Linked DNA regions of Homo sapiens. The protein of the gene in region 1 interacts with the protein of each later gene in a pairwise test. Each region holds a gene or a part of one and is shown in the gene's direction. Other genes may lie near its edges. The genes, in order: HSF2BP, SAPCD1, SAXO1, NUDT10, KIAA0408, CNNM1 and CTTNBP2NL.

Region 1 (3,500 bases):
GTGTGGGGAGCGTGTGTGGGGGGGGAGTGTGTGTGCCTGTGAGCCTGTGTATGTGGGATCGTGTGTGTGGGAGCGTGTGGGTGTGTGGGAGCATGTGTGTGTGTGGGAGCGTGCACACGCACATGTATGCATGCGTGCAGGCATTTGTCAGGGAACTTCACAGAAGGGGATAAATTTGAAATGGGCCTTGATGAATAGGTAGAAATGGCAGAAAATGGGTGGGTTTGTTTTAGGACAGTGAGTAGGTCAGTTGACACAGTGGAGAGTTAATGTCATAGAGTAGTGGGGAGGTAAAGCTTAAACGTAGGTTGGGATGTGACTTTGGGACCTTGAATACCAGGTTGGTGATTCATTCTGTAGGTGGGAAGACTGGATTTTCCCTAAGGGTTTTTCAATAAAAGTGATAGGATAAGAGCAGAATTTTAGAAAGATTCACCTGACAGTGGGTGAGGATGGATTAGGAGGTGGAGTTGTGGCACATCGCGTCTACACAGGATGACTGATGAGGTGGTCATTCTAGCTGGTCTGGCTGGAGTGAGCTCGGCCCTCTGCAGGGGAGATGGGAAAGAAGGAACATGTATGAGAGCTGTGGCAGTTGAGGCAGATGCGATGGCCGGGCAGAGTGGGCACCTGGAGGGGACAAGAGGAGCCAAAAAAGATCGGTGTTTGACTCTGGGAGCATGGCGTGATCATGACTGGAAATGAAGGTGAAGAGGGGGACGTGTGGCAGGAAACCAGTGAGAAATTAGTTACTGCTAATAGAAATAACAGTTGTGTTTGACTTTAGGTGGAAAGACTAAATGTGTTTTTAAAAGTTTGTTGAGCTTTATTAGGTTTAATTTACATACTGTAAGATTGTAAATGTACAATTTAGTGGTTTTTAGCAAATTTTTAGAGTTGCATTAACCATCACCACAACCCAGTTTTAGATTATTTGATCATCCATGAAGTTTTCTTATATCATTTGTAAATGCAAATATTTCCAATTTTTTAACTGGGTTAAAATGTACATTGGTTTTAAAATTCTTCTTCAGAACTCTAGCACCCCAAAGGAAGTAACTCAAAGGTTCAAACTTGGAAATGCTTTTTGCCAAGTGATGAAGATTTAAACTACCAGAGGAGCCAGTCTTTACCTCTTTTACATGTTTTCATTAAGATTTTTTTTTTTGAAAAAAGTTATGCTAAAGGTTTGAACACCTCTGGTTTAATGCCCAGAGCAAATAGGCAGCATGTTTTTCTAGTATATTTTTATTACATTTTGAGTGAATTCTTCCCATTTACTTTCATCATCATGTACATTTGTCCTATATCATATTTATGCGTGTGAAGAGTCCACCAATCTTCAGGGTAGTTTTTGTTGCTCCTGCATGCCTCAAGCTGCTTTCTCTGTTCTTTTAATGGGAACTTTTAATGAGGGAATAGATTTTACAATATTCTACAATTAAAACTAGAATCTTCTGTATCCTGCACTTTTAAAATGTTTTCACACTAGTGTCTGTAAAAAGATATGACACTCTGATTTTCAAACTTTCAGGATAAAGCTTTGAAGTTTTTCAGCATCACTGGTCAAACAATGGAGAGTTTTGTGAAGTCGTTAGACGGTGATGTCCAGGAGCTGGATTCGGATGAAAGTCAGTTTGTTTTCGCTCTGGCTGGAATTGTCACGAGTAAGTGCAGGCGCACCTGAGAGATGTTGCCTGTTTGCTTCCAGACCACTGCAGTAAAGCAAATACTGCAATAATACATGAGTCACATGAATGTTTTTGGTTTCCCAGTGCATATACAAATTATGTTTACACTATACTGTAGTCTGTTGTATGTACAATAGCATTATGTCTAAAAAATGTACAAACTTTAATTAGAAAATTCATTATTGCTAAAAATGCTAATGATCATCTGAGCCTTCAGCAAGTTACAATTTTTTGCTGGTAGAGGGTCTTGCCGTGATATTGATGACTGCTAACTGATCAGGGTGGTAGTTACTGAAGGTTGGGGTGGCTGTGCCAATTTCTTAAAATAAGGAACAATGAAGTTTGCCACATTGATTAATTCTTCCTTTCATGTAAGATTTCTCAGTAGCATGTGATGCTGTTTGATAGCATTTTTTCCACAGTAGAACATCTTTCAAAATTGGAGTCAGCCCTCTCAAACCTTACTGCTGCTTTGTCAACTAAGTTTATGTAATATTCTGAATCTCTTGTTCTTATTTCAACAATGTCTTAGCATCTTCACCAAGAGTAGATTCCATCTCAAGAAACCACTTTCTTTGTTCTTCCATAAGAAGCAACTTATCCTTTTTTTCTGCCACCACGTCTGTAGTTACTTACTCCACTGAAGTCATGAACCCTTCAAAGTCATCCATGAGGATTGAAATCAACTTCTTCCGAACTCCTGTTAATGTTGTTATTTTGACCTCCTCCCATGAATCATGAATATTCTCTTGTTGCCCAGGCTGGAGTGCAACGGCGTGATCTCGGCTCACTGCAGCCTCCACATCCTGTATTTAAGTGATTCTCCTGCCTCAGCCTCCCAAGTAGCTGGGATTACAGGCATGCGCCACCATGCCCAGCTAATTTTGTATTTTTAGTAGAGATGGGGTTTCTCCATGTTGGCCAGGCTGGTCTTGAACTCCTGACCTCAGGTGATCTGCCCACCTCAGCCTCCCAAAGTGCTGGGATTATAGGCATGAGCCACTGCGCTTGGCTGAATCATGAATATTCTTAATGGCATCTAGAATGGTGAATCCTTTTTAGAAGGTTTTCAGTTTACTTCACCCAGATCCATCAGAGGAATCACTGTCTATGGCAGCTGTAGCGTTATGAAATGTAGTTCTTAAAAAAAATAGGACTTGAAAGTTGAAATTTCTTTTTGATATATGAGCTGAAGAATAGGTATTGTATTAGCAGGCATGGAGTCAACATTACTTTCCTTGTACCTCTCCATCATGGCTCTTGATTGACCAGGTGCATTGTCAATGAACAGTAGTGTTTTGAAAGAAATCTTTTTTTCTGAGCAGTAGGTCTCAACAGTGGGCTGAAAATATTCAGTAAACCATGCTGGAAACAGGTGTGCTGTCATCCAGGCTTTGTTTTTCTATTTCTAGAGCATAGGCAAGAGTAGATTTAGCATAATTCTTAAGGGCTCTAGGATTTTCAGAATGGTTAAATGAGCATTGGCTTCAATTAAAGTCACCCGCACCATTGGCCCCTAACAAGAGAGTCAGCCTGTCTTTTGATGCTTTGAAGCCAGGCATTGACTTTTCTCTAGCGGTGAAAGTCCTAGATGGCGTCTTCTTCCAATAGAAAGCGACTTTGTCTACATTGAAAATCTCTTGTTTAGTGTAACCACCCTCGGCAGTGATCTTAGCTAGATCTTCTGGATAACTTGCTGCAGCTTCTCCATCAGCACTTGCTGCTGCACGTTGTTTTTATGTTATGGAGACAACTTCTTTCCTTAAACCTCATGAAGCAACCTGTACTAGCTTCCAGCTTTTCTTCTGC
Region 2 (3,921 bases), on another chromosome or scaffold:
GGTCCCCATGGCTCCGAATGCTAACCTCTGCCCTCTTTGCAGGTGGATGGGCTCGCGCTTCTGGCCGCTGTGCTCCGACACTGGCTGGCACGTGGACCCACATGCCCCCACATCTTTGTGGCCACCAACTTTCTGAGCCTTGTTCAGCTACAACTGCTGCCACAAGGGCCCCTGGTGCAGTATTTGGTGAGGAGACCAATCTAGCTCCTCGGGGACCCCCAGGCTGGGCATTTCCCAGAGGTGGGGATTGGCTCCTCTATCAGAACAAGGGCTCCCTCAGCACAGAGACCACATCCCTTCCCTTTTCTCCCTCCCCACAGGATTGGCCAAGGGTTTCAGGACAGGAAGGAGGTGATTGATGATACACTGTCTTTTATTCTCTTTTAAGACCATGGAGACCTGTGAGGATGGCAACGATCTTGTCTTCTTCTATCAGGTTTGCGAAGGTGTTGCGAAGGCCAGCCATGCCTCCCACACAGCTGCCCAGGCTGGGCTTCCTGACAAGCTTGTGGCTCGTGGCAAGGAGGTGATGAGATCCAAATGTGCAACCACCTCCACATCAGAGCTCCCTTTCATTCCTAGTCCTACTGGGCCTGGGTCTAGGTCCACAGGATTTCTGACCCTTATTTCCCCTTCTCTTCCCCACTCCCCTTACTCCTCCCACCTTCTTGCTTGTTCCTAGGTCTCAGACTTGATCCGCAGTGGAAAACCCATCAAGCCTGTCAAGGATTTGCTAAAGAAGAACCAAATGGAAAAGTGCGTATATGGCCCCAGTGTCTTTACCCTCTCTGCATCTTCTCCTGCAACTCTTCTCCCCTTTTCAGGGACTCAGCCTTCCTCCAGCACTTTGCCCTTCAGAAACCCACCATTTCTTTCTGAAATCCCTAAATCTTCAAGATCCCAGGTTTTCTGTGCCACAGCCTCTCCCCTCTGCCCAGGGATTTGGTTGTCCATTCTGCCATAAATCTTGCGATTTTCTCTCTTCTTCAGTTGCCAGACATTAGTGGATAAGTTTATGAAACTGGATTTGGAAGATCCTAACCTGGACTTGAACGTTTTCATGAGCCAGGAAGTGCTGCCTGCTGCCACCAGCATCCTCTGAGAGTCCTTCCAGTGTCCTCCCCAGCCTCCTGAGACTCCGGTGGGCTGCCATGCCCTCTTTGTTTCCTTATCTCCCTCAGACGCAGAGTTTTTAGTTTCTCTAGAAATTTTGTTTCATATTAGGAATAAAGTTTATTTTGAAGAAAGATATTGTTTCTTTAGTCTCAAAACAAGAGACTAGGAAAGATCCAAAACACAGAGCAGGAGTCCACAGGGGAACCTGCCCTGCCTCAGTAAAAATACAGTGTTGTTGCTGTAGGAAGACTCCCGGATTCTACCCCAGGATACTTCATGAGAACGAACCCCTTCAGAGAGGCCCTACAAAACAGATTAGAGGGAAGACAGAGGGGTCCAAGGGAGATGGTCTCTCTTCTCAAGTAGGAACACCCCAGCCTCAGACAGACACAGCAGGAAGGGGCCTGAGAGGCTGACAGAGGCAGGATGGGTGCAAGGCAGGGGTGGAGGGGAGGGACCAGCCCGGGCTGCACCAGTGGGAGTGGCTCCACCCTTCCCACCTCAGAGCCATGGGGAGCCAGGGCTCTGGCGGGGTGCCCTTGGTGCAGGCTCCCTACACAGTCCTGCTGCTGCCGCTGGGGACAAGCCGCCAAGACCCAGGGGCCCAGAGCTTCTTCCTTTGGGTGAGTATCAGCCCAACAAGAGGTCCCAGGGGAACTCTCTCAATAGATCTGCCCTTTATATTTCCATTCAACTTGAGGGCCCACAGTGTTCCCGCCTGCCTCCCCTTGCCCTCCAGGTCCTCAGTGGCCAGTCTGGGTTCACACTCAGTGACCACACAGTGAACCCAACTAGGGGTGGAGAGAAAGGGCCATAACCCAGAGCCCTACTGTGGCGTGAGAGTCAGCCTCTGTGATTGCCTTTCCCAGCTACGCAGGATGCAGGCTCTGGAGAGAGAACAGGATGCCCTGTGGCAGGGTCTGGAGCTGCTACAGCATGGCCAGGCCTGGTTTGAAGACCATCTGAGGGAGGCACAGCGACAGCAGCTGCATCTAGGGGCCCTTGGTGAGGTATGGGGGCTGCCCCTCTGTGTGAATGGGGGGAGGACCAGGGAGGGAGGAACAGGGAATGTGTAGACACAGCCTGAGACCACTCTGGAGAGGGGAGAGTTAATGGTCAGGGATCATGAGTTGGAGGCAGCATCGTAATGACAGGATGCCACCAAGTGTTAAGTTGGTGTTCATTGTTGGGGCTGGAGGAAGCTGGTCTGCATTCCATTCAGAGGGATTTGGATCACTCCATGGAGATGAGGGTGTGGCCTGGATTATTCCAATGGGGCAGGGATGGACAGGGAGGCTCCATGAAGAGTAGTGAAAGGGGGTATTGTGCTATTTGAGGGAGATGGAGGAACTGATGTGCTAAAGAGATGGAGGTGGAGAGTACTGGATTTTCCCACCTGCCTGGGAGGGTACTGGGACGAGGGGATCCAGATGAGAGGGATGGCCTGTGGTGACAGGAATAGAGTGGCAGACGACCTCAGGTTTTCACCATGTTGTCAGCCTCCAACTCCTCCTCTAGAATTTTCTAACAGATTTACACTCAGAGCCTGGTCGCCCCCCGTTAGCCCAGATTCAAAAGGTGAACATCTGTTTGCAGAATCTGATTCATGAGAAGGTGAGTTTATTGTTTTCAGTTTAGACTTTTGGGAAGTTGGACTAGAGAGGGGAGTTGTTGGGGTCAGTGCTGGCTTAACAGAAAACACAGCGAATTTCCCCTCCAGTTCTCCCCAAGTCCACTGAACAAGGCTAGTTCCTGCACCACCCAGGATTCAAAGGAAAGACGAAGGGAGCAGAACTTGTGGCAGCAACAGGTAAACTTCAAGAAGGAGGGCAGGAGCCCCACCCTACAGGGCTGGGAGGAGCCCAGAGGCCCCATCTGTTTCTCCTCCAGGAGTTGTCAAGGCAGCAGAAAGGAGTCACCCAGCCAAAGGAGGAGATGGCTCAGCGGGGCTGCACCAAGGGGCCAAGAGGCCCTACCCGTGTCTAAACCCTCCTCTCACTCCCCTAAGCCTGGTGAAAGAGTCAGAAGCCCCAGGCTCCTTTTTCTGTTTCTTAACTCAACAGCTAAAAAATGGCTCCAGGTAGTGAGTCAATGAAGTTCAGACATGTTGGTGTAAAGTTTCTCCTCTGCTCCTGAAAACTTCATCTTCTTGGTGTCTCATGTCCTCATTCTCCCCTATATGACATGCAAAAACGATCTTTCTTTGAAATCCCTCTGGGAAGAAGCATGTTTATTGAAACTGTCCTTCAGCCTTAAATACAAAAATAAAACTGAAACTGCTCCAGAAAGCAGCTTTCTCCAAAAATGTCTTTGGTTTGTTTCTCATAGGGTTAGGAAAAGTGCATTGTGGGAATATCCATTGCCCTCTATCCCAGTCTTGCAGGGTGTTTTGTTTTGTTTTGTTTCTGAGATAGGGTCTCACTGTCGCTCAGGCTGTAGTGCAGTGGTTCGACCACAACTCACTGCAGCCTCAACCTCCTGGGCTCAAGTGATCCTCCTGCCTCAGCCTCCCAGAGTGCTGGGATTACAGGCGTGAGCCACTGCACCCAGCCCCAGTCTCGAAGTTTCTAAGAAAGGAAAGGGATGTGATGGAGAAAGAAAACCTTCATTGGCTGGGCACGGTGGCTCACGCCTGTAATCCCAGCACTTTGGGAGGCCGAGGCAGGCAGATCACCTGAGGTCAGGAGTTTGAGACCAGCCTGGCCAACATAGTGAAACCCTGTCTCTACTAAAAATACAAAAAATTAGCCGGGCGTGGTGGCGGGCACCTGTGATCCCAGCTACTTGGGAGGCTGAGGCAGGAGA
Region 3 (3,500 bases), on another chromosome or scaffold:
TCCAGAATAGGACTGGAAACATCTGAGACTGTGAGTTGGAGGTGCTCTTCTCTACACAATGCTGCCATCTTCTAGATCCACGGGAAGTCCAGTCTGGGTAATGGGGCAGGAGCACCCACAATGGGAGAAATGAGGCCAAAGGATTCCTGAGCTTAGTGGAAACCACTGGACAGGGGCTTGAGAATGAGAGGGAGTTGAGGGCCTTGTCTGATGCTTGACTTGAATCAGGCCACTTAAAAAAAATTTTTTTTTTAAAACAAGGTTTCCTTCTGTAGCCATGGCTGGAGTGCAATGGTGTGATCATCGCTCAGTGCAGCCTCGAATTTCTGGGCTCAAGTGATCCTTGCCCCTCAGTCTCCTAGTAGCTGGGACTACAGGCATGGACCACCATGCCCAACTAATTTTTAAACTTTTTGTAGAGACAAGGTTTTGCTATATTGCTAAGGCCAGATGATTATATTTATTCTAAGCATGTATCTTAAATGATTTGGTTTAAGTGCAGTGTTTGTGTGTCCTGATGTATTAAAACATTGTAGTTTATGCTGCTGTTTTTTCAACCTATGACTTATTAAACAATATGAACACTAAAGTTTGGGCTTCATTTTGCTGGGAAAACAGTATTCTTTGTCTCTGAGAGTCTAAAGACCATAATAAGAAGTGTGAACCATTTCTGAGCATTGCTTTTGTTTTAGGAAACCCTGGTCAACACCAAGTAAGAGTCCTAGGCACATGTATAAGGGACATGTAATCGGTAGGAAAGGGTGAGAGTAGTACTGAGGGGTGGCTTGCAAATATCTTGTTCGGTCTCCAGGTGTGGGTCTTTTTATCTCTTTATATCCAATTTGCAGGAAATGAAGAAGACTTTGTGAGATGTCTAGTTGGCTTCAGACACTGATATATTTCCTATCCTGAAAGTATAGACAGGGATGCTTTGAAGGTTGGTTGTTGCAGGTTGCTTTGTTAGCTGCCCAAAGCTTAGGAGAATGGGGACAAACCCTTGGTCTGGGGCGGAAGACCTGCCCCAACACCTAGCTCTGAGGCCCCCAGATGCAACTCCAGGTACCCTCCCTCCTCCTGATGGTGCTTCGCTAAACAAAAACTTACCCTCTGACCTGTCCTAAATTATCCTTGCCTTGTGTCACTTAAAACAATAAACATATCACCCAGAAGGCCCCTCTGCCCCTGCCGGAGTCAGAGTAACAATAAATACCATGTACATCAAATGTGGCTAAAGTAGAGGAAAGCAGATTCTGCAAGAATTTCCAAAATAAGCTGTTAATGAACATAAGGGCCTTAAAAAGAAAAAGTGGCAGGATCAAGGTTGTCCACAGGGAGGAAAAGGAGCAGATATGAATCTCTTTTTATTTCCTACCCTAAAAAGAGAAGTAAAGGGGAAATGAGTAGAAGACATCTGTGTTCTCTTTTCTACCACAATTTCATTATTTCTCAACCCTGTGCCTGCCATGATAGGCACTACTGTTCATAGACCGAGAACAAAATTATGCCACTGTCAGGAAATGTAGGGAAGCTACCATCTGGGTGTTCCCCTAGAGGCTTACAGGGGAAGGGATGCGTCAGCCCAGTGTCTGCACAGCCCAGTGTCTGCACACCCTTGTGTCTGTGCAGATTGTCGTCACCCCTCTGCTCTTAGCACTCTTATTACTGGAACATCCCACCCACTTCTTTATCTAAACAGTGACCCTGCTTAGTTTCTGAGGTTGGACATGAGGCTCCCACCTGCTGAATGAAAAAGTCACGTGGTCCAGGGCTTTGCTGGGTTTGGTGATTAAGCCCAGACACAAAAAAACACCTGGTTTCTGGAAAGGTTATCATCCCAGCGTGAGGCATGATTATAACTGCACACAACTCTTACTGACCATAAATCTTGGGGATTTACAGCAGGTGCCATGAGGGGAATGCTTGTGATTTCCAGCCATTCTTAGTGTGAAACTCTTTCTTGCAGCCCTTGGTAATTCTCTGGTGTAGAATCTGCCTTTACTTCAGATAGACCTGAGATCAATTTATGAATAAGAGGTTTGCACTTCCAGCCTCATTTCCCCATAGGCATGTCACCATGTAAAACACTTGGATCCCAATTTGAGACATTCTGTTAGCTAAACCAGCTCGCTAAAGATGGGCAAAATGAGCAGCATCAGAAGAAAGAGGTGAGTCTTCAATGGTGTTAGACGTTTATCCTAAAGGGAGTGGGACCATGGGTAGAGTGGAATGGAGGCACAGAGTGAGGAGATAGAATTGAGTTCAGACTTGATGGGTGTGGCTGAAAGGCAGACGGCAGGGAATTGGTAGCATCGACTCTATCACTTATTTGCAAGACTCCTTGGTAAACCAAGGAGAGTAAGGGAGGGAAGAGCTAAGAGAGAAAGGGCATTTAGTATCCTCCCCAAAGGTCAGGAAAGAAACAAGAGAGTTAGTAGCAGGCTTGAGTCTTGCACTGCCCATTGAATTTTATATATATATTTTTTGTTCAAAGAGACACCTGACTCTCTTACTCAGAGCTGTACCACTGGGCATATACTTAGCCTCCATAGCCTGGGCCTGAGAATTAGTGTGAACACAATGTAGGTAGAGTTCTCGGCACTGGACTTGCTTGGGCAATCTCAGAGCCTTTGAATTGTCTATACTGTATTTCTGAGTAAATTTGTAGACATTTTGGCCATTATTTCTTCAAGTAATTTTTCTTTCACGGATGCTCTGTTCACTTCTTTTCCCCAATCTTTTCTCCCCGTCCTCTGTTCTTCAGATTGGATAGTTTCTATTAACCTAGTTTCAACTTCAAGTTTTTCTCCCTTATCTCCATTTTGTGATTAAGGCCATCCAGTGAATGTTCTACTTCACATATTTTGCAGTTTCAGAATTTGCATTTGATTCTTGTTTTATATAGTTTCTATTTATTTTACCTAATTTCCTATCCTTTAATTCATTATGGCCTTACTTTGCTTTCCTTAATGAGCATGGTTTAAAAAGCTACTTTAAAATCCTTATCTGCTAATTCCAATGTCTGGTCTGCTTGGAGTTGGTCTCCATAATTATCTTTTTTTTTTCTTTTTTGAGCATGGGTCAGATTTTGGGTTGATTTTTGTACAGTGAGAATGTTGCTACATTGTGGACACCTTAGATGTTTGTTTGCATTCCTCTAAAAAGTGTTTTTATCTTTGGCAGGCAGGTAACCTGATTTGATTTACAATGCAAACTCTGTGTCTTGGGTGGCCGCTCAAATCTCACTTCAGTTCTTTAGCTTGGAATCTACCCCATATATGTGAGGTTATGCAGAGATTTGGGCCCAGTTTATGTACAGAATTTAGGGCTTCCTGTCTTTGACTCTCTCATTTCCAGGTTTCTTTCCTCATTTTGCAGCATCCGTGGTTGCTTCAAACTTGGTCCTCTTTTTTTTTTTTTTTTTTTTTTTTTTGGTGAGATGAAGTTTTGCTCTTGTTGCCCAGGCTGGAGAGCAGTGGCACGATCTCGGCTCACCGCAACTT
Region 4 (4,069 bases), on another chromosome or scaffold:
CGAGGTGGGCGGATCGCGAGGTTAGGAGTTCAAGAGCAGCCTGACCAACATGGTGAAACCCGTCTCTTCTAAAGCTACAAAAATTAGCCAGGCGTGATGGCACCCGCCTGTAATCCCAGCTACTCAGGAGGCTGAGGCAGGAGGATCGCTTGAACCCAGGAGGCGAAGGTTGCAGTGAGCTAAGATCGTGCCACGGCACTCCAGCCTGGGCGACAGAGCGACAGAGTGAGACTCCATCTCAAAAAATAAAATAAAATAAAATTGTGAAATAGGACGGGATCTCCATGTGCATGGTTTCCCAAACACCAAGTGGTGCTTATCAAAGAGAAAGATAGAGAAGGGTGGAGTGTGTGGAGAATAGGAGAACGTCTCTGGGCTTTAACGCAGGACTACTAGATGGGTGGTGCTCTGGTCTTTAAGGTGTACTGCATCGAAGTGCAAATGGCTGCAACACGGAGGCGAGGAGTGTACCCATGAGGAAACTGAGGTGCAGGGAGGTCAGGCAGGTTGTGAACAGGGGTTTAAGAAAAGCGTTAAATTACTGGCTGCGCCAAGATGCTCTGCAAGGTGGGAACCTGTTGAAGAAATAAAACTGCATCATGTGACTCAGCAAAGATGCCCGGCTACTGTGCCAAGAATCCCGTGGGTTGTGCAGACAACACTAGGGCCCAGGTCCCATGAGTAAGCCAGAATGGTTGATAGTGGGGGAGGATGATGACGACGCTGCCTTTGCCCCTGTCTTGTGTGAAACAACTGCCTGTGGGTTTCCTGCAGCGCAGTGGGGAGTGAGAGGAGAAACGTCCTGCCGTGCCACAGTGAGTTTGGGTCAAAGGCACACATGGAGGCAGTCTTGGCCAAAGTCACAATGCGGTGAATTTCGCTGTGCGCCAAGGAGGTTCCTGGCCCCAGGAGTGCGAAGCGCCTGCGCAGTGGGCCCCAGGCGTTGCGCGCTGCGGGAGCCAGGAGACCCCCGCCCCTGGCCCCTCGCCCCGGTTCCTCGCCCCTCAGCCCACGCCCTCCCCTGCGAACGCGCACGTGAACGGGAGCGCGGACGCGCCCGAGAATGCGCTTCACCTCGCAGAAGCGGGTGGGCTCTGTGGAGAGTCGCGGGCTCGCGGGCAGCAGCGCCTCCTCCACTCCGGCGGGCCCGGGTTCGGCCGGCCGCCCATCGGACTGGCGGACTGGCTGACTGACACGCCTCGCTTGCCCCCGCCTCCGCCCGTGCCCCGCCCAGCTTCATCTCTCCCTCCGCTCCCCGGGCTCGGGGGCAGACGGCAGACGGAGGCGCCTCTCTCTCCCCGCCCCTCTCCTCGGCCCTTTCTCTTCCCAGCACCTCGGCTGCTGCCCGGCAGCGGCAGCAGCTGCGTCGGCGGCCCACACAGCAGCGAGAGGCGAGAGGAGGCTGCCTCGAGGATGAAGTGCAAACCCAACCAGACACGGACCTACGACCCCGAGGGGTTCAAGAAGCGGGCGGCGTGCCTGTGCTTCCGGAGCGAGCGCGAGGACGAGGTCCTGTTAGTGAGTAGCAGCCGGTACCCGGACCGCTGGATCGTGCCGGGCGGGGGCATGGAGCCCGAGGAGGAGCCGGGCGGTGCGGCGGTCCGAGAGGTGTACGAAGAGGCGGGAGTCAAGGGGAAGTTAGGCCGGCTCCTGGGCGTCTTCGAACAGAACCAGGACCCCAAGCACAGAACGTACGTGTATGTACTGACTGTCACGGAGCTGCTGGAGGATTGGGAAGATTCGGTTAGCATTGGGAGGAAGCGAGAGTGGTTCAAAGTCGAAGATGCCATCAAGGTTCTCCAGTGCCACAAGCCCGTGCACGCCGAATATCTGGAGAAACTAAAGCTGGGCGGTTCCCCAACCAATGGAAACTCCATGGCCCCATCCTCGCCAGATAGCGATCCCTAGTATGTACCGCTTGCGCCCGCACAGACTTCTGTTTGTCTGCCTTGCTTAAAATGCATCCCGCCTGGAGCACCTCTCGTACCATGTGCGGTCTCATGGGCAGGAGGGAGGCTTTTGTTTCCTTGGCAGACCCTCTGAATCACGCTTGCAAACTGTTGCCAGGCCCTGTTTTCAGTTGGCACGTTTTTCAGTTGCTTTCAAAATCGCTTCTTGGTTACCCTGTAAAATGTTTCGGAGAAGCCTATGCCGCTTGGGGTTTTAGGTGCTGTAACTGTTCACCCTGCTTTTGGGCGGGGGGGGGGGGGGTGGGGGGCGAGGGGTGGGCGGGGAGTGTGTGTGTCTGCCTGTGCGCCCTGTGATGTTTTTGGTTCTTTTATATTTCACACATATTCGTGGGTGCGTGCACATTTTTGATACCAGCCTTGTGGTTTGTTTGGTAGTGGAGGCCTTTAAAGTCTGACCAGCTTGGTTGTGTGGCATCTTTTAGTATTTTTTTCCCTTGAGTTGTTTTCTCCTTCACAGCGTTCGCCCTTGTTGTCAGGGAGGCCTTCTGTGGTGGGAGTTGGTTTAAAAAATCAGTTTTGAATTCGTAAAAACATTAGGAAATCCTACATCTTGTGCTCTTTCTGCACTCGACAGTCGCTCTAGCCTCTGAAGTGGTATCTCATTTGCCCCTTTCAGAAATTTCTTTTTCTATTTCTATGTAGGTCATTTGGTTTTCAAAAAATTTTCACAAGTAATTTTTCACTGCTGACTTTAAATCGCTATTTCCCATGTAGATTAACCTTACTGAATAGATGCTGCTGGGGATCTGCTAGCCAAACGCATCTGATCAGAAAAACTGTATTCACAGAATTTGATTTCCCATACTCAACTTCCAACTCCCATTGCCCCTTACTGGATACCATAGAAGAACCATGGTTCTCTGGATTTAAGTTTGTTTTTGAAAGAAAGTGGTTTCCATTCCATATTTGAATGTAGTGACATTCCGCTTAACCTCCCTGACTCCCAGTAACCACAGGAATGGAATCTTTTGTGGTGATTACATCCCAACAGAGTTAGCTCTAGCGATGTTCAGCTGGTACAGAATTGTCAAACTATTAGGATTCCTGAACAATCTCTCAATGATAGAGAGTAATTGTTTTGTCTCACAGTACCACCTTTTCTGGGTGCCAAATTAAAAGCTCTCACGTTTGCCTCAGTACTTGCTTGAAGTCAGGAATCCCATCTAGAATAGCTAAATCTCTCTTCTGGACCTTCCGCTGTTCCCCCAGCCATGTCTGACATTAGGTAGAAGGAAAACCTATTTTGTGAAGAGGGTATTCGAATGAAAAGATCATTCCTAATTTCTAGAGCAACCTAGACTATGTCATATCTCTTAAACATTATTGACAGGTATTGGGGTCCCTTAACTTTTTTTTTTGAGATGGAGTCTTGTTCTATGGGTCACTGTTACGCACTTTCTATTAAGAAATTTTGGGTTTCGCTATGTAAATTCTAGGTTCCTCTTCTGGATTTCATCTCCCATGACAGTTGAGGAAATGTCTAGTTTTTGAAGAGAGTATGGGTGGGGGCTGGGGGACCGGGCGCGGTGGCTCACGCCTGTAATCCCAGCACTTTGGAAGGCCGAGGCGGGCAGATAACGAGGTTAGGAGATCAAGATCAGCCTGGCCAGCATGGTGAAACCCCGTCTCTACTAAAAATACAAAAACTAGCTGGGCATCGTGGTGTGCGCCTGTAATCCCAGCTACTCGGGAGGCTGAGGTAGGAGAATCGCTTGATCCCGGGAGGCGGAGGTTGCAGCGAGCCGAGATCGTGCCACTGCACTCCAGCCTGGGCGACCGTCTCAAAAAAAAAAAAAAAAAAAAAAGACTGATTTTCCCCCTCGTCCCTGTCCCCCAATGGACAAGTGCCTACTTTTTCTTATTCTAAAAAAAATTTGAAGACGACATGTTGGAGTAAAGGTAAGTTTGGTTGCTTGATACAGAATTTGCTCTGGATGGTTAACATATTTTCTAAGAAACCTATGTTCTGTTGATCAGGTCACCTTTGAAAGAAGTAACCCTGAAAGGGGTGAAAGGTGGCCATAAATATTTTTAAGTCCTGTAGAAAATTGATAAAAATTGAAGTGTGTATGTGTAAGAGCTTGTAAAGAAACAGCAAC
Region 5 (3,500 bases), on another chromosome or scaffold:
GCGTGAGCCACCACGCCAGGCCAGAAACTGTAATTGTATATTTCTCTGTTCACTAATTCTTAAAGCAAATCTTCCAATTCTCTTTGTAATCTATTAGTAATACTTTACTCTTTTTCGTGTCTAATTAAGGTAGACCCTCCATAAAAAATCAGTAAGTAACCTCTAAAGTAGTTCTTTCTCATTCTGAGCATTTGGACAATGAAAGTGTACAACTGGGCTAATTCAGTTAAACGTATCATTAAACGATGTCAGAATTAACAGTGTGGCGTTTTGCTTATATAATCATGTTCTACTAAAATATTTAATGCTTAAGAGCACTTTATTTTGCTTCAATTCGTGTTTATGTAATGGAGGCCTACATACTTTTCAGAACAACATATTGTAAATATGTACACATGTACGCGTGCCACAAAAAATGCTGTTTCCATTTGGAAACAGTATATACTTAATAACAGTAAGTTTTAGCCAAATTAACAAATATATTGGAATTCTCTACAAGTTTAGTAAAGATGGATTATTCTAGGATCAACATTTATCTCTCCTCGTGGGTCAGTAGGCTTCCTACATTCCCTTATTTTTCATTAGTTGTTAGGAAGCTCAGAAAGAATTTTTGTGCTGACTTGCAATAGATTTTCTTAGCCAATCATGTTTTAAACATAACTTTGTCCTCTATTTGCCTATTTAGCTTTTCTATTCTCTGTTAATAGGTATTTATCCACATTTTATTGTAAGCTATCCCATAATCTTTTATAATTTGAAGAGGTATAAATATGATTTATATTTATCAGTGTGATTAAGTTTGAATTGCGATATTTAGTTTTTTATTTAATATAACTCAGAAAAGACTTACTTGCCAATTTTCTTTTACAAATCACACCTAATATAATGTTCTTATTGTCACCCCATGGACTTTAGAACAAGGTTCAAGATATTTGTAATTCAAAGACATTACAATTTGACATAACCTAATGTTTCTCTCTCATTTTTCATTATCCTCCCCACTCTGCTTTATAATTAATCCATATCAAAGTACTCATTTTCCTTCGAGTAGCCATAGTATTTAATCCTTTTGCCTTTTACTTCAATCCTATATGCCTTTTACTCAAGTCATCCAAAAAATTTTTACTTTTTTTCAAGACCAAATGACACTTTCCATTTGGAATTACTCATATCTCATTGCACTTTTATTCAGATTTGTATCTGACTACTTAAAATGTTATTTCAAATTCAAGGAGAAGAACTTGAGCTCACATTACATAATGAATAAGAATTCAGCAGGCAGAGAGAAGGTAAGGGAATGGCAAGATAAAAGCTACAGAGAGAGAAATGCCAGTAGCAGAAACCCAGGAGACTACATAGTTTAATCTGAGGGTAGGTGAAGTCTCAGGTAATAGTGAAAATGAGAGACAAGTTTGGAAAGAGTTTGAGTCAGAGTGTGTAGAGCATTGAATATAACACTGAGAGGTAGACTTCATTCCACCATAAAAGGACTTGAAGTTTTTGACTGGGAGATTTATGTAAAAATGATGTATGAGGCAGTTGTGAATCCTTTTCTTATAGCAGAAACTCATTGCTTTAGCTATGTTTGCTTTTGAGAGCTTATTCTAAATAAAGTTATAACCAATACACCATGTTTTATCATTGTTTAGGATGAAGTCAGATTCTTTTCTCCAGGAAATGCCAAATGTAACTAATATACCTCATGGGGACCCCATGATCAACAATGACCAGTGCATTCTTCCAATCAGTTTAGAAAAAGAAAAACAGAAAAACAGGAAGAATCTGAGCTGTACCAATGTGCTCCAGAGCAATTCTACGAAAAAATGTGGAATTGATACAATCGATTTAAAAAGAAATGAAACTCCACCAGTTCCTCCTCCAAGAAGCACCTCTCGAAATTTTCCCAGCTCGGATTCTGAACAAGCCTATGAAAGATGGAAGGAAAGGTTAGACCACAACAGCTGGGTGCCCCATGAGGGTCGAAGTAAAAGGAATTACAACCCTCACTTCCCTTTGAGACAACAAGAGATGTCTATGTTGTATCCAAATGAAGGGAAAACTTCGAAAGATGGTATCATCTTTTCCTCTTTGGTACCAGAAGTCAAAATAGATAGCAAGCCTCCAAGTAATGAAGATGTTGGACTTAGCATGTGGTCATGTGACATTGGGATAGGTGCAAAAAGGAGCCCCTCTACTTCGTGGTTTCAGAAAACCTGCTCTACCCCCAGTAATCCAAAATATGAAATGGTGATCCCAGATCACCCTGCTAAATCTCATCCTGATCTTCATGTAAGTAATGACTGTAGCTCCTCAGTAGCAGAGAGCAGTAGCCCACTTAGAAATTTCAGTTGTGGCTTTGAAAGGACTACAAGGAATGAGAAGCTGGCAGCAAAGACTGATGAATTTAACAGAACTGTATTTAGAACAGATAGAAATTGTCAGGCAATACAGCAAAATCACAGCTGCTCAAAATCATCGGAGGATCTCAAGCCCTGTGATACCTCATCTACTCACACAGGTAGCATATCACAAAGTAACGATGTGTCCGGTATTTGGAAAACCAATGCCCACATGCCTGTGCCCATGGAAAATGTGCCTGATAATCCCACCAAGAAATCCACAACAGGCCTAGTAAGACAAATGCAGGGACACCTAAGTCCTCGCAGTTATCGAAATATGCTCCACGAGCATGACTGGAGACCGAGTAATTTGTCTGGCCGTCCGAGGTCAGCTGATCCCAGGTCAAATTATGGTGTTGTGGAAAAGCTGCTGAAAACCTATGAGACAGCAACAGAGTCTGCATTGCAAAATTCTAAGTGCTTCCAGGATAATTGGACCAAATGTAATTCTGATGTCAGTGGTGGTGCCACATTAAGTCAGCATTTAGAAATGCTCCAAATGGAACAACAGTTTCAGCAAAAGACAGCTGTGTGGGGGGGACAGGAAGTGAAGCAAGGAATAGATCCGAAAAAGATAACAGAGGTGAGAAAGCAAATATAACATAATTTGGTAGCATCCATATTAGCAATGGCTCTGAATCATGTTTATATGTCCAATTCATATAAATAGAATGAGGGCACAAGTTTTGGACTCTTCTTAGCCTCTTGACCCTGTTTGTAAATAAATATAACTCAACATGAACCTTGAAGGTGTAGTTTTTAACACTGAGAATAGTACATTGTAACTTTTGAAAAATTCTGAAATGGGATAACATAAATACAGTAAGTGGATTTAGGAACCTGAAGAAGATCAAATGTTTGCTCTTTCTTGAAAAAATACTCAGAATGGACATTACTCAATTTATAGAATTTCATTATTTTAAAGGTTCTTTTTTAAGTGTATGGAAAATATTTTTAAAATCGTTTTCATTTTTCAGTTATTAACTATGATTGGTTCAGTCATTCTCAGCATTTGACTCATGTTCTTTCTCATAGGATTAATCACATTAATATGAATATGGGAAATACACATCATTTAAAACAGTGCCTAATAGAGTCCTT
Region 6 (3,500 bases), on another chromosome or scaffold:
TGCCTCAGTCTCCTGAGTAGCTAGGACTACAGGCATGCACCACCACACCCAGCTAATTTTTGTATGTTTAGTAGAGATGGGGTTTCACCATATTGGCCAGGCTAGTCTCAAACTCCTGACTTCGTGATCCACCCACCTTGGCCTCCCAAAGTGCTGGGATTACAGGTGTGAGCCACCGCACTCGGCCTAGATTTTATCTTGACCTGACTTAGAAATGGTCCAATCTTGGACTAAACCAGTGGGGCAGTTTATGAGGCCCTGGATTAGCTGGTGCTTAGGCCTGCATCATGGAAGGGCCACTACAGTATGCAAGGACAGCTTGGTTATTCATGACTGGATGCTATTTTATGAACAACGAAGCACTGAATTTACTGCAAAGAGCTATTAAAGCTGGTGGTGCTTTCTCACATGTAAATCTGGAGAGAATTAACATTCCTCTGTGATAAGAACATGGGTCTAGTCCACTTGTTATCCAAGCAGAAATGCTTAGGATTCGAGTCAATAGTAGAACTGGAAGTGCTCATACACATTCATAGTACACTTCCTTTTTTTTTTTTCCAGGGTAAAGTGGAGGTGGAGGTTGGTAAGGAAGGCCTTCGCTTTGAAAATGGAGCCTTTACTTACTATGGCGTCCCAGCCATCATGACCACTGCTTGCTCAGGTATTCTAGTTTCCATTTGTTTATTGGGAAAGTAATGGGATATGGTAGAAAAAGCACAGGGGTTCAAGTCTTGACTCCCCCTTTGACTCTTGTTAATCAGCCTGGACAAGCCATTTAACTTCCTTGGCTTTAGTTCCTTCCTCTGCAAAATGGGTGTATGAATCACTTTTCATTCAGTTAGTGCTTAAAAAAAAAGTGACAAAAAATTGAATTGTAAAAAGCAGTAATATTGTCAAGTGTTAGGGATCTAGGGTGGTAGATTTCAGTATGAAAAGACAAGTTTATTTTGCTTTTTATACTTGTTCCCTACCCTTCCATTTAATTGCCTGGTTTTTACAGGGTTAATTGGTGCTGGGGGTGGATAGAAGAGGGAAGATTCCCATAAGAAGTGTGTTTTCTGAGTTGCCTCTGAAACCCACTGCATGCTTCTGTCCTTAGATAATGACGTGCGGAAGGTTGGAAGTCTGGCTGGATCTTCTGTCTTTCGTATGTATCTCTCAAACCCCTTCCTCGTCCTCCCCATCGTAGTCCTGCCTCAGCCCGCTCTGGGGACCTGGACCGAGCACTTTGAGCCTGGGCTGGGGCTAAGACAAATGCTGGCAGCCCCTTTGTAATGTTCTGCCAGGAACACTGCTTCCTGCCAGGTACCCACAGACCATGGGAGCTTAGGTTCTGTGTGTCTGGAATGTTTTCTGCTGCTTCTCTGCTCACATGGTTGGGGGGATGCAGGGGTTGTGAGGGAAGGCACTGCTTATTGCCACCTTCCAGTGAATGCAGGCAGGTGATTTGTGTGCTTGGGCAGAGGCTCAGCCCTTCCTTCTGTGCAATAACAATTCACCCATGGCCTTTACTCAAACACTGTCATATGCTATTATTGTGTCTGTGGGGTTTGTCCTCAGTAAGAAGTGACTGCAAGATTTGGGGATGTAAGTTCCACCTTTGTGCAATACGTTGCTTATCTGCCTCTCTTTCTTGGTTCTCCACCTCTCAGCTAGTGGAGAGGTATCTGCCAGCTGGCTGTGCATGCTGTTGGTGGGGGGCAGGCACAGGGCTGATGGCTGGTTTGCTCTGCCCTTTCTGTGCTGTGCCTTCTTGCTGTTTTCTGTGTAGTTATTGCACTTGTGCTTAAAGGGCATGGCATTTTTTGTGATTAAAAGTGTGATACAGAAAGAATTATTTCTCTAGATTTCTTTCTGATTCACAGTTCTGAATTTTGCATTGCTTTCAGCTGTTAGTGTTTACAGTGACCACTTCAATGCCAAATAGGGTCTTTCCTCTCATCATAAAAAAAGATTTTACATATTGCCTTGTGGTGGGAATTATCAGAGGGTCCCAGAGCTTGATATCATAGTCCCTGGAACATGGCAAGGTAGATACCATTTTAACATGAGTGAAACTAAGGAAATGACTTGCTTCAAATCACCCAGTAAGTTGGTGACCGGCCAAGATGCTTCCTGGTGTCCTGGCTAGTTCACACAGCACAATAAAATACAGATTTCAGATCCATCATATTCTGGAATGCAATTTCTAAGTGGAAATAGTGGAACAATTTACAGTGTAATTGTTACAGTGTAATAGCCCAGCCAGTGGTTGAAATGAAGTACCTGCCCAGTGTGAAGAGTGGCAGAACTTGAGTTGGAGGAGATCTGTAAAATTGAAAAGACCCTGGTACATTATTATACTTAAGACAATGAATCTCAATCAAGGTTGATGAAGGAAGCATTAGTGTTCAGTAGAACTCTGGATGGGTGAGGGACGGGCTACAGGACTTTGGCAAACCTTAGTTCTCTAAAGGAAATCTCCATCATCCATCACATTAGGGACTACTCCTGGGATTCTAATATGTTACCTAGAAATGTCTGTGATCTCTTCCAGAAGACTAAAAGAGGTGGAAATTCTGAGAAAAAAAGACCTACATATGGCTTCCTAGCCCACCCAATTTATATGACCTTCTTTCTTAAAAAAAAAAAAAAAGAAATTGCTGTGGCCGGGCATGGTGGCTCTCACCTGTAATCCCAGCACTTTGGGAGGCCAGGACGGGTGGATCACATGGTCAGGAGATCGAGACCATCCTGGCCAACATGGTGAAACCTTGTCTCTACTAAAAATACAAAAATTAGCCAGGCATGGTAGCACGTGCCTTTGATCCCAGCTACTAGGGAGGCTGAGGCAGGTGAATCACTTGAACTTGGGAGGTGGAGGTTGCAGTGAGCCAAGATCATGCCACCGTACTCCAGCCTGGCTACAGAGCAAGATTCCATCTCAAAAAAAAAATTGTTTTAAGTAGAAGGAAGATGTTATCTGATTTCTTCCTTTCCTTCCTTCCTGTTTCTAGTTCTTTCTTTCAAAAGCTTTCAGTTGCATCAGTGAGATAGAAATAAAGTTGCAACATTGATTTCTCCTTTAAAACTAGTTAACTGAAAAGAAACATAGCACTCTTTCTCTTTCTCTCCCCATGTTACTGAGCATCTCTGTAAATCTTCAGAAGGAAAAAGAAATATTATTAGCCAATGGGGTAAAAAGACATTTTCCATCCTCCCCGAACCCATACTTAGTGTAGTGAAGTGTGAAGTAACTGCAAAGGCCAGCCATACCCCACAGTTATCCCGGGTGAATGCTCAGCCCATGGTCCAGCCACCCAGCATCTTTCACTGGCCAAGAACCTCAACCTATAGGTTGAGGGAGAGCTTAAGTCTAAGCTAAAAGGCAATAAAATCTTGTAGGGTCTTGGCCCAGCCCCGTCCCCCTATGCTTGAAGCTAGCTTAATCAGCCTTTGAGGATGAGGAGTGAGATTATGAGTTTGCTGGAATACTGGCACGATGACCTATGCTTCAAAGT
Region 7 (3,500 bases), on another chromosome or scaffold:
ACAAGAAGAGGGGGTGGAATTTGGCAGCAGGTGGAAGAGGTTTTGTCTGCATGTCTGGTTATGAGGTGCCTCCATCCTCCTTGACCCATCAACAACTGAGTAATGGTTCATATGTACAGGTCACAAGTAGTCCTAGATTGTAATGTGATCCTGCTTATATTTTGCACACTTTATATATCTGCTGGCATTTTGTTAGGTCTCTAAATATATAAACTCATAAAATTATCATACTTAACATGTTTTAGAAATGCTAGTACCATAACACGGAAAAAAATAAGATGTACCTGCTGGTAATATAAGCATTCATAAGCAGATATAAGCAGAGTCAGTAAGCACAGAGGTTAAGGACACAGACTTCGGGGCCAGGTTGCCTGGGTTTAAATCCCAATTCAGACAGCTTGCTAGATGAGTAACCAGGAATAGTTTTCTCATCAGCAAAATCGAGATGATAGCACTACCTTACAGGGTTGTAAATTTTAAACAAGTTAATCTGACTATAAATATTTAAAACAATGTCTAATACATAGTGCTTTATAAGTATTTGTTCTTGTTAATATACCATGCCACCTTTCTAATGCTGTTTCTTTAGATGGCTCAATCTGACTTGTAATTAGTAGGTTACATTTATACTAATACCACAACCTTTAATGTATAACCACTGGATAGCAAATCCCCCTTCCTCAGTAGTTTTAAAAAGCAAGATGCTTATTTTTTTTCCTCTTTCCCAGGCCCAACACAGAGATACTTTCATTGAAGAACGCTATGGAAAATATAACATCAGTGATCCTTTAATGGCTCTACAGAGAGATTTTGAAACACTGAAGGAGAAAAATGATGGCGAAAAGCAGCCAGTCTGCACAAATCCACTCTCTATTCTTAAGGTTGTGATGAAGCAGTGCAAGAACATGCAGGAGCGCATGCTGTCCCAGCTGGCTGCTGCTGAGAGCAGGCACCGAAAGGTAGGTTCACCTCAGTTGATGTGTAAATCTTTGTGAAGTCTTTATAAATTATGCCTGATACTTTCTTGTCAGCTGCCAGTTTTTCACAGTAATTCAATTGGGACATCTCACGGGTATCAAAAAGCCCCTTAGTTTATGTAAGAGCCAGGAGATAAAAAAGAAAACACAGCTTATTGCAAATGTTAAGTTTAGAGAACGTGCCAGACACGTTATTTAAGACAGCATTTCTTCTTGATATGTCACTCCAAAACACTTTGTATGTTTTTTCAGTTCTTGATCATTCAAACTTTGGGGTTTGGCCAAGCTTGTAGCTGACGGGAGTGTTCTCTATTTGCTTACTTAAGAGATAAATAAAAAGATTAACAGGTATTTGAGGCATGCTATATCCAAGGGAGAGAAAGAATTTACCTGAGGATAAACACAGAAGCCAATAGATTATTTTCATTTATTCCTATTATTCCTAGTTTTGAGTTTCATTGCATTTTGTTGCTCATGAAACCATAAACAGTCCCTTGGTTTATTTACCTTAAAGGTGTTCTACTCTATTAGTGAGGGGTGTGTGTGTGTGTGTGTGTGTGTGTTTTCCATATTTAACAAGCCCTAAAATAGGAAGGCAAACCTTATGGTTATTTACAGTATTTACTTTAAAGCTGTTCTACCCTATTAGTAAAGAGTGTGTGTGTGTGTTTCCATTTCTAACAAGCCCTAAGAAGGCAAACCTGTGCTTTCCTCTGCTTCATCTTACTGGAATTCTAGTGCTTGTGAATTTATTCACCAACTTGTCATCTTGTCATTTACTCCTCAAATTTGGCCTGTAAAAGATGCTTGGCTACAATCTTCATTTTTAAAACACTGTCAGTTTAGATTTATGCCAACAAGGCAGTTATCAGTGCATTTGGTAGGAAACATTTTCATCTGAAAAATAGGGTTAGCAGCTGCAAAATTTGGTGGACCTTACTTTTATGGTTATCAGCATTAGAGCCATCTTCTTAAATTGCATCTGATACATTTTCTAGGCTCTGGATCTTGCCCGTGATCTTTTCTTTCCCTTCACAGAAGCCAAATGAAAGGCCAGAGTGGAACTTCTTAACCATGGATAGGCCTCAGATGTTCCACAGTCCCCCAGAAAATAGACAGAATGTTCAGAGTTTATGCATTTTTGTAGGAAATGTATTTTTTCCATAGCTTTAATCAGATTCTCCAAGTTACCCAAGACCCAAAAATGTTTAACCTCTGGTTAGAATGAAGTAATCTGAAAACATTTACACTCCAATTTAAAAGGTATCAGTGGGTGGGAGTTAGTTGCCTAAATTGGGTGGAGGGGGAGCTTTTACATAATTCTCTAAAAATCTTCACAACATTCTTGTTTAATAGGCAGGCTTTATTTCCACTTCATCCATGAGGTGACTGAGTTGTGTTGAAGCTAGTTGGGCTAGCTTTCATGCCCATGGAAGGTGTACTAGGGACAGTTTGTGTTTCTAGGTGATTGGAGAGAGGAAGAAGTTAAAAATAATTCAAAATTTCTTAATACTATATTGCAGTGCTAAATGTTTTAAGTGAATATTAAATTTTTGAAACAAAGTACCTATCTATTCTTTTTTTTTTTTTTTTTGAGGTGAAGTCTCACTCTGTCACCCAGGCTGGAGTGCAGTGGTACAATCTTGGCTCACTGCAACCACCACCTCCCAGGTTCAAGTTTAAGTGGTTTATCAAAGTAGAAGACTGACTTTGTTAGAAATCAAACAGTACCTAGAGGCTTATAATTAGGGTGCTCATAGTCTCAGCTTATGCCTGTCACCTTGGCTTAGTTATTAACCATATTCCCTTTGACTGTCAGAAATGTTCTGGTTTGAATAATAAATTACATGGTCATTGTGCTTACAATGAAAAACAGTTTTCTATTCCACCTCTTCTCATTCCCCATCCTCCCCAGTATTCACAGGCAACCAGTTTTTTCTTTTAGCCATTCACTTTGGTAGCTAACCTCCATATTTCTAAATACTGCACTGTTCTCTCTTGCTTTATCAATTTTAGACATTTATATTACTTTCTTTTATATAGGTGCAGATTTAGTTATCTTACACCCCGCCTCCCTTTCCTCTCCTTAACCCTTACCCAGAACAAATTTAATCCTCTTTTCCCACCACCATTCTCTGTCACATCTACTATTCCCAAATCCTGAGCCTGTCACACTATTTCTTGAATGTGACAGGCTCAGGATTTGGGAATAGTAGATGTGACAGAGGCCAGATGCTGATGGTCTGTGTGCAGGAATCAGGGTGAAGGGACAAATAATTCTGAAAATACAGGCTTTGAAGGCCAGACACAGTGACTCATGCCTGTAATCCCAGCACTTTGGGAGGCCAAGACAGGCAGATCACTTGAGGTCAGGAGTTCGAGGCCAGGCCAGCCAACATGGTGAAACCCCATCTCTGCTAAAAATACAAAAATTAGCCAGGCATGGTGGCGTTCCTGTAATCCCAGCTACTCGGGAGGCTGAGGCAGAAGAATAGCTTGAGCCCAGGAGGTGGAGGTTGCAGT

Evidence for each region.
Region 2: the proteins of HSF2BP (region 1) and SAPCD1 interact in binary tests that used the Homo sapiens proteins (3 or more experiments, as listed by UniProt).
Region 3: the proteins of HSF2BP (region 1) and SAXO1 interact in binary tests that used the Homo sapiens proteins (3 or more experiments, as listed by UniProt).
Region 4: the proteins of HSF2BP (region 1) and NUDT10 interact in binary tests that used the Homo sapiens proteins (3 or more experiments, as listed by UniProt).
Region 5: the proteins of HSF2BP (region 1) and KIAA0408 interact in binary tests that used the Homo sapiens proteins (3 or more experiments, as listed by UniProt).
Region 6: the proteins of HSF2BP (region 1) and CNNM1 interact in binary tests that used the Homo sapiens proteins (3 or more experiments, as listed by UniProt).
Region 7: the proteins of HSF2BP (region 1) and CTTNBP2NL interact in binary tests that used the Homo sapiens proteins (3 or more experiments, as listed by UniProt).

What each region holds. Positions count from the first base shown.
Region 1 is NC_000021.9:43,628,489-43,631,988, reverse strand, and holds part of HSF2BP (heat shock factor 2-binding protein), read left to right. Parts: intron 1-1,534; coding exon 1,535-1,667; intron 1,668-3,500. UniProt on the Homo sapiens protein: Meiotic recombination factor component of recombination bridges involved in meiotic double-strand break repair.
Region 2 is NC_000006.12:31,761,430-31,765,350, forward strand, and holds SAPCD1 (suppressor APC domain-containing protein 1), read left to right. Parts: upstream 1-1,226; 5' UTR 1,227-1,625; coding exon 1,626-1,739; intron 1,740-1,985; coding exon 1,986-2,126; intron 2,127-2,634; coding exon 2,635-2,730; exon of another isoform or gene 2,731-2,836; coding exon 2,837-2,926; exon of another isoform or gene 2,927-3,006; coding exon 3,007-3,102; 3' UTR 3,103-3,421; downstream 3,422-3,921. Other genes in the region: MSH5 (mutS protein homolog 5), read left to right, coding at 43-186, 389-526, 683-756, 991-1,102.
Region 3 is NC_000009.12:18,946,210-18,949,709, reverse strand, and holds part of SAXO1 (stabilizer of axonemal microtubules 1), read left to right. Parts: intron 1-2,002; exon of another isoform or gene 2,003-2,133; coding exon of another isoform or gene 2,134-2,165; intron 2,166-3,500. UniProt on the Homo sapiens protein: May play a role in the regulation of cilium length. Stabilizes microtubules at low temperature.
Region 4 is NC_000023.11:51,331,553-51,335,621, forward strand, and holds the start of NUDT10 (diphosphoinositol polyphosphate phosphohydrolase 3-alpha), read left to right. Parts: upstream 1-1,269; 5' UTR 1,270-1,413; coding exon 1,414-1,907; intron 1,908-4,069. UniProt on the Homo sapiens protein: Cleaves a beta-phosphate from the diphosphate groups in PP-InsP5 (diphosphoinositol pentakisphosphate), suggesting that it may play a role in signal transduction.
Region 5 is NC_000006.12:127,445,890-127,449,389, reverse strand, and holds part of KIAA0408 (uncharacterized protein KIAA0408), read left to right. Parts: intron 1-1,649; coding exon 1,650-2,982; intron 2,983-3,500.
Region 6 is NC_000010.11:99,363,856-99,367,355, forward strand, and holds part of CNNM1 (metal transporter CNNM1), read left to right. Parts: intron 1-561; coding exon 562-661; intron 662-1,099; coding exon 1,100-1,147; intron 1,148-3,500. UniProt on the Homo sapiens protein: Probable metal transporter.
Region 7 is NC_000001.11:112,448,214-112,451,713, forward strand, and holds part of CTTNBP2NL (CTTNBP2 N-terminal-like protein), read left to right. Parts: intron 1-728; coding exon 729-959; intron 960-3,500. UniProt on the Homo sapiens protein: Regulates lamellipodial actin dynamics in a CTTN-dependent manner. Associates with core striatin-interacting phosphatase and kinase (STRIPAK) complex to form CTTNBP2NL-STRIPAK complexes.